Regions from separate parts of the Homo sapiens genome. Here region 1 is linked to region 2. Evidence: fine-mapped QTL for protein levels in blood plasma. A gene starts in region 2. The other region holds a variant in brackets. All regions are shown on one strand. Distances are from middle to middle. Region 1 overlaps TEK (TEK receptor tyrosine kinase). Region 2 holds the start of TEK (TEK receptor tyrosine kinase).

The links. PIP is the chance, under the fine-mapping model, that this variant and not a neighbour inherited with it causes the effect. Protein levels are from the aptamer-based SomaScan assay of Sun 2018.
Region 1: its variant is fine-mapped to the plasma level of the TEK protein (Sun 2018, PIP 0.95). The variant lies in the coding sequence of TEK. If it changes the protein, the assay may bind it differently, which can mimic a change of level.

Annotation. Positions count from the first base shown.
Region 1 is chr9:27,180,028-27,185,412 of GRCh38, reverse strand. It overlaps TEK (TEK receptor tyrosine kinase), which reads right to left. Exons shown (of 23, transcript NM_000459.5): 7 at 5,045-5,173; 8 at 1,803-1,954. Among named protein-coding and RNA genes, the nearest start is that of TEK, 73 kb to the right of the region's middle. The variant T/G (reference allele first, on the strand shown) is at 1,948.
Region 2 is chr9:27,105,906-27,111,291 of GRCh38, reverse strand. TEK (TEK receptor tyrosine kinase) reads right to left here and starts at 2,067. Exons shown (of 23, transcript NM_000459.5): 1 at 1,650-2,067. The coding sequence starts at 1,701. LOC124902134 (a long non-coding RNA gene) reads right to left here. Exons shown (of 2, transcript XR_007061440.1): 2 at 4,751-5,386.

The DNA of each region.
Region 1 (5,385 bases), 74 kb before region 2:
CATCTCATTGTTTAATAAGAAGTTTCCTAGGAGAGATCAAGAAGCTAAATGTAATGCTAATATAATTATTGGCTTATTTCCAAAGCTATTGTAGTAGCCCTGAAAGTTTATTTTGGATTGATGCCCTGTCAGATCCTGCTGTTGTATTTGTGTGTTTAGGAGTACGGGGTAAACACTTACAAGCAAGACACCTGAAGCATGATTTCTTTTAAACTCCTCCTCATAAGATTTGTTCCTTTCCTATCTAACACAGAGATGGCTGCGTGGGAGGACAAAGTGACTTCCTAAGTGTTTGAGAGGCTGTCAAGTGGGGAGTACTGGAAAAATCCAGGGTTCTGAAGAGAGATGGACCTCTGCCATTTTTTTTTTTTTGAGAGACAACAAAGTCTTGTTCCTTGGCTCAGGCTGGAGTGCAGTTGAGTGATCATAGTTCACTGCAGCCTCAAACTCCTGGCCTTAAGTGATCCCCCCACCTCACCCAAGTAGCTGGGACTACAGGTATATGCCACCATGTCCAGCTAATTCTTTTTTTATTTTTTAAGAGATGGGGTCTTGCTATGTTGCCCAGGCCGGTCTCAAATTTCTGGCCTAAAGTGATCCTCCCACCTCAGGCTTCCAAAGCACTGGGATTGCAGGCATGAGTCACCGTATCTGGCCTCTTTGCCATTTTTGACCAATTCCTTAGTTACTTAACTTCACCCAGCCAGTTCCCACTTCCGCCAAAAAAAAGAGACACTAGGCAATGTTAAGTAAGAAGTTACATATAGTTATGGCCAACCTTACTAAATAGTAGCCATTACTTTCATTAACTCATGAAAAAGCCAATAAGATTTTGGAAGCCATCAATTGGCTTCTTCTACCTGATGGGTTGTTTGAGTGGAATCAGGGACATTGAAACGTGGACCCTAGTAATGGTACATTCTACATATTCCTCCCTCAGAAGGTCACTCATACCTGCCTCTGGTCAAGCTGATTTTGGTCATCTTTGATAGAAAAATAGGATAATAAGTATTTCTAAATTTTTAGATTAAAAAATACATCAATATCCTAAGGATCACTTTCAACACAAGAGAAATTTGGGGTGGCTCCTGTCTCTGCTGCATTTGGTATAGTTGGGAGAGAGAAGGAAAGCATGTTCGAAAAGTAGCTTGATCCTTTTAAACAAAAAATAACTGCTGTGATATTACCTGACCATGGGTGAGCATCAGCAATGAAGGCAAAGGGAAGAGGTGGGTAGAAACCCAATGAATGCATTCAGACCTAAGGGATCCCGTGGATTGTAGTTTCAGAACTGGGGAACTCTCCTCTTCTATGCTCCCCTAAACTGCTGCTCCAAAGAGCGTAATAGGAGTGGACCGGTCATCAAAACTCCATGTCCTGGTTGCACTTGGTAGCACGTAAATCTGCTGATTCATGGGTTGCAACACCACCTTACTCTCCTGATATGAGTAGTTAGAGATATGGGGACACTGCGAGAGCAAAGCTTTGCACAGATTGACACGTACTTCTCCCCATACCAGCTGGACAGTCCTGCAGGATGTGTGCCATCCTTGGCACCCAGCTCTGTCAGTTCCCCAGGAGGCATATTCCCAACCATGCAGAGCAGTACTGGCCAACAGAAGAAATCAGTGAGGCTGCAGTGAGTCAGTTCTGCCTCTCCAGGAATAGGGCATTTTATCAAAGCCAACAACACACTAGCCTAGGAGGATAAAAGCACTGAATGGTATCTATCATTTAGTGGGGTGATTACTACACTGAAGCATCTCATGCTTTAAGAAGGGCAAATTAAGAATGGCTCTTACATGGAGCACTGTCCCATCCGGCTTCACCAGGGTCATTTCTTCATTAGTAGGTAGCGGCCAGCCAGAAGCTTTGCAAATGGGATTAAATTTACCACTGTTTACTTCTATATGATCTGGCAAATCCACTATCTTTGGGGTCATCCTC[T/G]GTATGCCTGAAGGAAGAAAACAGCACTGTGAAATCTAATATTTAACAGAGCCAGCAGCAGTAGTAATAATAAAAATAGCTACTTTAGTAAGTCATGCACCGGGCAAGAACTTTGCAAATATTTTACTGTTTTGTCATCACATAAGACACCTGTGATGTGGATGATATTGTGGTCTCCCATTTTATGGATGAGGAGACAGAGGCTCACAGCCCAGATTCAGACTCAGATCTTTATAAATCCAGAGTCCACGCTCTTTGCCATGAGGCTGTGCTCCTTTCATGGACCAGGGAGGAACAGTCTCAATATTAAAATGATTATCATGGCCATATCTCCCCTAGACTTTGCTGTTCAATCCCCCTCTTTCTTTTTACATGAATGATTACAAAAATACAACAAACAAAAAACTAGTTCTTCCTCCACTCATCAAATAACCCCATGGTATTGCTGTTCAACAGCATTGACCTCAGTTTAGATATACGAGAGATGTCTCATTCATTGGGAAGTCTGCAAATAGCAGATAACTAAGAGGAAAAGGTGAATAAAGTTGCTCACAAAAGAAGTACATCAAAGAAGTGAAATATAACTTCCCCAAATCAGTATCCACTCAACAGCCAAATCAAAAATGTTGCTGCCAATATTGAAAGAAGGAAAAATGTCTGTAGTGTCAATAAAGGTAATGGTGTCAGGATTTCTTGCCTAACATCTACACAGTAGAGAATGAATAACCCTGAAATATACCAATTTTATTCTGAACCATAGGGACTCAGGGAACTGTGGACTATTTGTAATTGAATGTGAGACATGTTTGAAAATTGTCCAACACTCAGTAAACAATGTAGGCGATAGAGGTGCCCTCAGAGCAGCAGTAACTACAGACTGTTTCTTATCGGTGGTGGGAAGAGGCGGGGTCAATAATGATATTTTATACTGATATCCTACTTCTCAGGCCTAGAATGAAATGGGTAAAGGTGTGGAGGAGAAGGGAAAGAGGTCTAATACTTACAAGGTTATTCCTTGATATATCTGTAAACTTGGAAAGATTATGGAAAACGTGCCAAGTTTTTCAGCCTAAGTAGCTATTTGAATAGGAATTGAAAAACATGTTTTGACACTTTTAAAGCATTTCTTTCCTTCATCGTCCCCTTGTATTTTCTGAAGCTGGGTGGGGGTGAAGGTGGATGTGCTGGGCTAAAGTGGAATCTGGGAAGGGAGCTACTCTCTGAAAGCCCTAGTGACACCCTGGTTAACCTGTCTTAGATTCTCCCATCAGAATGCACTCCTTTTGCAGCATCAGCAGAAGGGAACAGACGGGAAGGAACAAAGCACAAAATTCAAATCCTTAAACTTGTTAGCTGCCCACGTTCAATACAATCCCCTAGTAGCCCCATGGCATTTCCTTCCCTTTCTAACCACTCCCTGATTCCTGCCCTGTAGTAAAGTCCAGGCTTGGCAAAAGAAGAAAAAATATAAAGTTTAAGGACTTTGAGAAAACACTTACTGGCATCCCACCCCCACTCCCAATATTTGTTCTGATTTCCAAAAGTAACAGAAAAAAAGGCCATAGCTGTATTATTGTGAGTGTAGATTTCACTGGATATGTATTTATTTCAATGGCATTTATATTTATATGATTGAAAAAGCAATACATATTTATTAAGTTTGAAAATACATATGTCTGCTTCTTTTAATTTTAAAAAGTATATTCTACGACAGTGGATAGCAAACATTTTCTGTAAAGAGAGCAAATACAGTCAGCTTTGCAAGCCATGTTTTCTGCCCTTGTAGTACAAAAGCAGCCACAGACGACATACTATAAATGAATGGAGGTGGCTGTGATCCAAAATTTTTTTCTTTATAATAACAGATGGTGAGAAATAAAAAAGGAATGAAGTACTGATACATGCCACAACATAGATAAACCTCAAAAAAGGTGTGGCAAATGAAGCTAGTCACAAATGACGACGTATTATACAATCTTGTTTACAGCATATAAAATGTCAAGAACAGGCAATCTACAGAGACAGAAGATATGGTTGACCCTTGAACAATACAGGCTTCAACTGCATGGGTCCACTGACATGTGGATTTTTTTCAATAAATATATTGGAAAATTTTTTGGAGATTTAGGATAATTTGAAAAAACTCACAGACAAACTGTGTAGCCTAGAAATACCAAAAAAATTAAGAAAAAGGTATGTCATGAAGGCATAAAATATATACAGATACTAGTCTCTGTGTTAATTGACTATGTTATTGGTAAGGCTTCTCGTCAACAGAAGGCTATTAGTAGTTAAGTCTTTGGAGAGTCAAAAATTATATGTAGATTTTCTACTGCGAGAAGGGTCAGTACCCCTAGCCCCCATGTTGTTTAAGGTCAACTGCAAATAAATGGTTGTCAGAAATTAGGATGATTGGAAAATGGAAGTTTCTATTAATGGGTACAAGGTTTGTTTTGGTATGATGAATATGTTGTAAAATTAGATTATGGCAATGATGGCATAGCTCTGTAAATATACTAAAAACCACTGAATTTACATTTTAAAAAGTTGAACATTATAATATAAAAAATGTATCTCTATAAAGCTGTTTAAAAAAAGATAGTGGGCTGGATTTAGTCTGTGGGTTAAAGTTTGCTGACTCCTGCTGAAGAGTAACTTCTGAACTAGAATGACATAAAATTTCATTTTGAGCATAATCTTTTCTATTTGTTTTATTCTTTCTATTGCTTTAAAAATATCCCCTGTCTAAATCCATCCCAAATTGCTCTTTCTCTGTTACGCATGTCCAGGGAAAAGGTTGGTCCTAGAGAAGGGAGCAGAAAAGGTAGGAGAGCTCTCAGCTGGCCAGTCATCACTTAAGCTGCTACAAAGAGCACGTGGTTTATGCCTAGTGCAAAGACAAATAAAGCCTACTATTAGGGTCAGTAGAGCAGAATTAAAATGCTGTGCTTTAGGATTTAGGATAAACTATTCCCAACTTCTGGATGGAAACAAAAGAGGCTTGAGGATCTTAGAATGCCGGCACAAGAATTACACTACCAAAGCTCAGTTCAGACATGCTGAACATGGCCCTGACTACAGTGTTACCTTGCTTTACCTTCTCTCTCACACTGGAGCCCCTGCCATCCTGGAGAGCAGAGACATCCTTGGAAGCGATCACACATCTCCCCATTGTTGCAGCTGCACCTAAGCTTACAATCTGGCCCGTAAAAACCAGGGTGGCATGCTGTAAACAGAGACATCAAAAAACCAGTATTAATCCAGGGGAAGAGAGGAAACTAAGACTGCAGGTGTTTAGTTTTATTTTTCTCTCTAAGCCATCAACTTTGCTGATTTGTGTAAGGTAGGGGGTAATTTATCTGAATTACCAGGAACTTAAAAAGCTGGGGAGTTATGCTTCCAAAAAAAGTTGAATGAGCTCCTATCATGCCAACTTTC
Region 2 (5,386 bases):
CTCAGAAACTAACCTTGCTAGTGTCACCCTTCCTAACAAGAACATGAACCTACTTCCTCTCCTTGGTCCTCTGCCTTTTAAAGGCAGTGCTGTTTTTTCCAGGGATCTGAGGTCTAGACATGGAACAAGTATTTTGGCTACATACCTTTTTGTTTGATTTTATGACAATTCTTCTAAGCCTGTATTGCAAAGTGCTATAACACAGTTGCTTTAGGAGTAAAAAAAGTGAATGAAAACAGTTGTGTGTGTATTAACCTACAAAGTACCTCAGAGAAACTATAGACACCTGGGCTTCACATCACTATAATCCCTGGTATAGAGTAAGTTCCAGATTTCATGTCACTGGTAAATAATGGCACTCAGAAAAAAAAAAATCAAAAATGGAATCATGATAATTATTTGAAGTACATATTATTGGAGAAGTCAACATTATTTAAACAATTTCCACATAAATACTGAAGCCACCTAAAATCTTTTAATTTTTAGCAACTTGTGTTACACATTCTTAAAGAATATTATTAAATTCTCAAAATATTGGTTGTTGAGAGCTATAAAACAAACTGTATTCAACTCAGTTATTTCATTGGATTTGTTTTTTGAATATTTAATAAAATAGTTCAAACACCTAGAAAATATAGCAGATACTTATGTATACTCGAATCAAATTATATTAATATGCCCTATATCCATGAAGTTTAGTGAATTTTCCCAAATTCATCTCCAATATCAATTCGATTTTCGTTATTAAAATTAGAATGTTTTCAAACCGAAGGGGAGAGACTGATGGCAATGATAAATGTATTTGTGATATGTAGTTCAGGTTTGGATACTGCCTTCTACCTATGTCACATAGGCTGAGTGAGCTACAGAGGCACACCACTATCTGGAGTATCTAAGCAATAAACACGCTGAACCCAACACACTGGCCAACCACTCCTTCACTCTACAACAGGCTTCATATACTCTCCTGTGTTAAAGATTTTGGTAACTGCCTAAATTTTTGTTTCATTGGGCCAGTAAACCCTTTATGAATTACTACATGGCAAACATTTTTTAAAATAAAACAAAAATTCTAATAGCCCCAATCTCCCTGACCCTAACTACAAGAAAAAAAAAAAAGCCTACAATTTCATTGCTTTGCTTAAAATAGGATGTAGATATAAAATCTTTTTACAGAAAAGCATCTTTGTTCCCTTTTAACAGTGACAATCTATACACTGCCTTAATTGGGCCCCTGTATTTCTCAGCATGAATTTCATTTTTTACTGAAGATTTTCTTTAAAGCAGGTAAAACCGGTTTGTTCTTTAAAAAAAAAATCAATAAGAAAAACACTCCAGAATGAGGAGCAGGAAAATAATGCATGATAGTAAGGGGATCTCTTCAAATAAGATGATTTAATCGGTCCTCAAAGAGTTTCTAACACAGGGGCCAATCACCCAGAAGACAAACTAGCAAAATCAGTTCATGCCACAGAGCCTTTGCATTTCAATCCTTCCACACATATTGACTGGAGACTCACAGAGAAATGGTGCCTTTGCTACAGCCACCCCTTGTTCATCAGCACTGATGAGATTTGGGGAGAGCACCCAGAAATCACTAACTCTGTTTTTTAAAATACTAAATTAAAAAAAATAAAGCCAAACCTTACCAGAAAGGAGCAAGCTGACTCCACAGAGAACTAAGCTGGCTAAAGAGTCCATGCTTCCCCAAATCTCTCCATCCAGTTTCCACAAATGTGCATGAGGTCCCAAGGATCCTTTCAAAAACCCAGCGGTTTGTGACTTTCCATTAGCATCGTCCTACTACGTCTTGTTTACAAGTTAGAGGCAAGAAGGAACAGCACAGAAGCAGGCTGTAACAGTCTCATTTCTGTCTGAGCACAGGGAGTTTTAAGTTCCTTTTTCCTGTTTCCTTTGTAGATTAGGATGGGAAAGGCTGTATCTTAAAGGCATTTGGTATCAGCAGGGCTGGGGGCACTCAAGCCCTATCCATCTCGCAATTCATCAAAACACTTATCTGTTGCTGTTGCTTCTGCTGCTGCTTTTGCTGCTGCTGTAGGGGCAGAGGAATTTTTGTTGGAAGTGTGGGTCCCGGTCAGCATTTTCAGAAACAATAGGGGTATCCTCTCATAGGCGGGAAACTGAGAATAACAAGCCCTCCACCTATGTATGGTATGCGATGATGACCAATCCTTCTCAGACTTCTAACAGCTCTCCCGGGGCTACTGGGATCTCTGACAGAAGGAGCTTTTGGGTGTGGGAAGCCGTTTTGGCTTTTGTTTTCTCATTTTAACCCACATGGTTTGAATTGGGAGAAGAAGGTTTCCGTGATGAGAAAATACAACCTGAAAAGCAATTAATTTCAGTGAGCACCGGTGAGGTCAATGCTCAATGTAGCCCCAAGAGACCAGAGTCCAAAATTGTTAGCCTGTTTTCTTTCACACAGATGGCCTGTTGGTTGGCCATTAGCCCAAAGATACCCATGTTGCCGGCTATAGCTTTAATTTTCATTAACAATTCATCTAAAGGTGATCAAATTTCTTGAAGAAGTTGGCATAGAAGGATTTTGGTAATGAGAAAGATTTGGTAGTCATTGAGCAATGGTGTTTCAGAAGCAAATTATATATAACATTTAAAAACTAATCTGTGTAAAAACACAAACATACAGGATTAGATTGGGATAAAAATGGTGCTCATGAGAGCAAAGAGAGTTCATGGACCAAAATGAAAATAGCCATGGAATGTACAATATCTAGAATGAGGTCAGAGACCCTACACTTATCCAGATAATTACTCCACAATATGAATTATGACATTAGATTAGAGAGTATACACTTTGCTCATCATCGACCTTCATGCCTGAGGAAATCATTATACTCCTCCTTTTCCTACCCACCAGAGGAAAAGGCAGATGCAGCTAGTCTTGACTAATTTCTGTCCCAGGTTTTATCACATCGATGATGATCTTAAGAACCAATTAATGTTTCCAGTTTGCAGGTGTGAAAAAGCCCAGGTTCTGTCTGCAAACAGAACTGGGTTCAAATACTGGCTCAGCCACATGTGTAGCTGAGAAAAGTTACTTAGTCTTTTTGAGCCTCAGTTTCAACAGCTGTGAAATGGCAAAAATATCTCCTTCCCAGGTGTTTTGAGAGGAATAAATGAGGTTTAAAAATATAAAACCATTTGGTACTATGCCTAGTTCTTTGAAGGTTCTCATTAAATGTTAATAAGTTTATTTTCTTTCATCTTTCCATTCAGTCTCAATTTAAATTCCAAGAGCTTCTACTAAAAAGCTATTTTCTATTCCTATGAGATGACTTTAAATTTGTCATCACGAAAAAAAAAAACAAAAACAGTGGGCCTGGCACAGTGGCTCACGCCTATAATCCCAGCACTTTGGGAGTGGATCACCTGAGGTCAGGAGTTTGAGACCAGCCTGGCCAACATGGCAAAACCCCATCTCTACTAAAAATACAAAATTTAGCTGTGCTTGCTGGCGTGCACCTGTAACCCCAGCTACTCTGGAGGCTGAGGCAGGAGAATTGTTTGAACCTGGGAGGCAGAGGTTGCAGTGAGCCGAGATCGTGCCACTGCACTCCAGCCTGGGTGACAGAGCAAGACTCTGTCTAAAAAAAAAAAAAAAAAAAAGAAAAAAAAGAAAGAAAAATGAAGTTCCACACAGGCTAAGTTACTTGCTCTGCTGTGAGTAGCAGAGGTAATAATATCTGAATCCTGAGCTCTGGACCTCCAATTTTTCCCTTGTTTCATAGTTGAAAAGTAGATCAAGAGTAATGTAGGACATCACAAACACCAGCAGGGTACACCTAGACCTTACAGAAGTATTTGAAATGAAACTTTGACAGATAAGAATAGTTTGGTGACACTGAGAAGTGCGGTCAGTTCTTAGTGTGCTTCTGAAATAACTAATGTCAGGATCGGTGGGTGCTGTATTAATTCACTTCAGGAAAATGAAAGGGGCCTCCTCATGAGTCAAGCTCATTCCATTTAATTTGATTTTTCCAGACATACCTACAGTAAAAGCATAAAGAAAACCAAACCAAACTAAACAAACAAACAAGGCTCTTGGCTGATTCTTCATTTTCTATTTCCTGCTTTTTGCACTCAATACATGAAAAACACTATAGACAACATTAAAAGTCTTTGAGACTAATTAACAAAGGTATCAATAGATAACAAAACGGTTTTTCTGAAAGAGGTGGAAAATAACTTACATAATACTACTATACACTGGTATCACATGTCAAGAGGTCAACATCACAAACACAAAGCAAAAGCCTTGTATGCATACCCTTTGGCCCAGAAAATCCAGTTTTTTTTTTTTTTGAAATAGAGTCTCACTCTGTCGCCCAGGCTGGAGTGCAGTGGCACTATCTCGGCTCACTGCAACGTCCGCCTCCTGGGTTCAAGCGATTCTCCTGCCTCAGCCTCCTGAGTAGCTGGAATTACAGGCGTGCACCACCACACCCGGCTAATTTTTATACTTTTTAGTAGAGATGGGGTTTCACCATATTGGCCAGGATGGTCTTGAACTCCTAACCTCATGATCCACCCCCCCCCCCCCTTGGCCTCCCAAAGTGCTGGGATTACAGGTGTAAGCCACTGCGCCCCACCAGAAAATCCATTTTTATGATATACACCAAGCCAAAATCAAATATGTGCCCCCAAATTTGTGTATAAGGACATTATAGAAGCATAGTTGATAATAATCAAAGCCTAGAAATAATCAAAATGGTCAACAAAAATGGATTATTTATTAAAAATCATGGTATACAATGAAGTTCCAGACAAGTGTTCAAATACTATGGTGAAATCAGATTGACATAAAAAGATGTGAAAATGTTTATGGTATACTGTTGATTGGGAAAAAAACACAATTTAAACAGAATGAAATTTATACACACTGAAATACACACCACAGATATACAACAAATAAATATCAAAGCGTTGAAAGTGACTATTTCTGAGTTGTTGGAAAACATAATTTTTATTTTCTTTTTTATACTTTTCTATAATTTTAACACTTTTAGAAATAACGAACATATATGTAAAAATGAAGAAGACTGAGGGGACGTCCTTGAGAAAGTTGACCCAGGGCAATAGGATGTATACTTTAAAACATCCACTGGCAAATAAGAAACAGAATCCAGGCTACCATATGACCCAGCAATCCCACTGCTGGGTATACACACCAAAGAAAGGAAATAAGTACATCAAAAATACATTTACACTCCCATATTTGCTGCACCACTGTTTACAATACCTAAGATATGGAAGCAACGTAAGTGTCCATCAATAGATGAATGGATAAAGAAAATGTGGAACATCTACACAGCAGAGTACTATTCGGCCATAAAAAAGAATAACA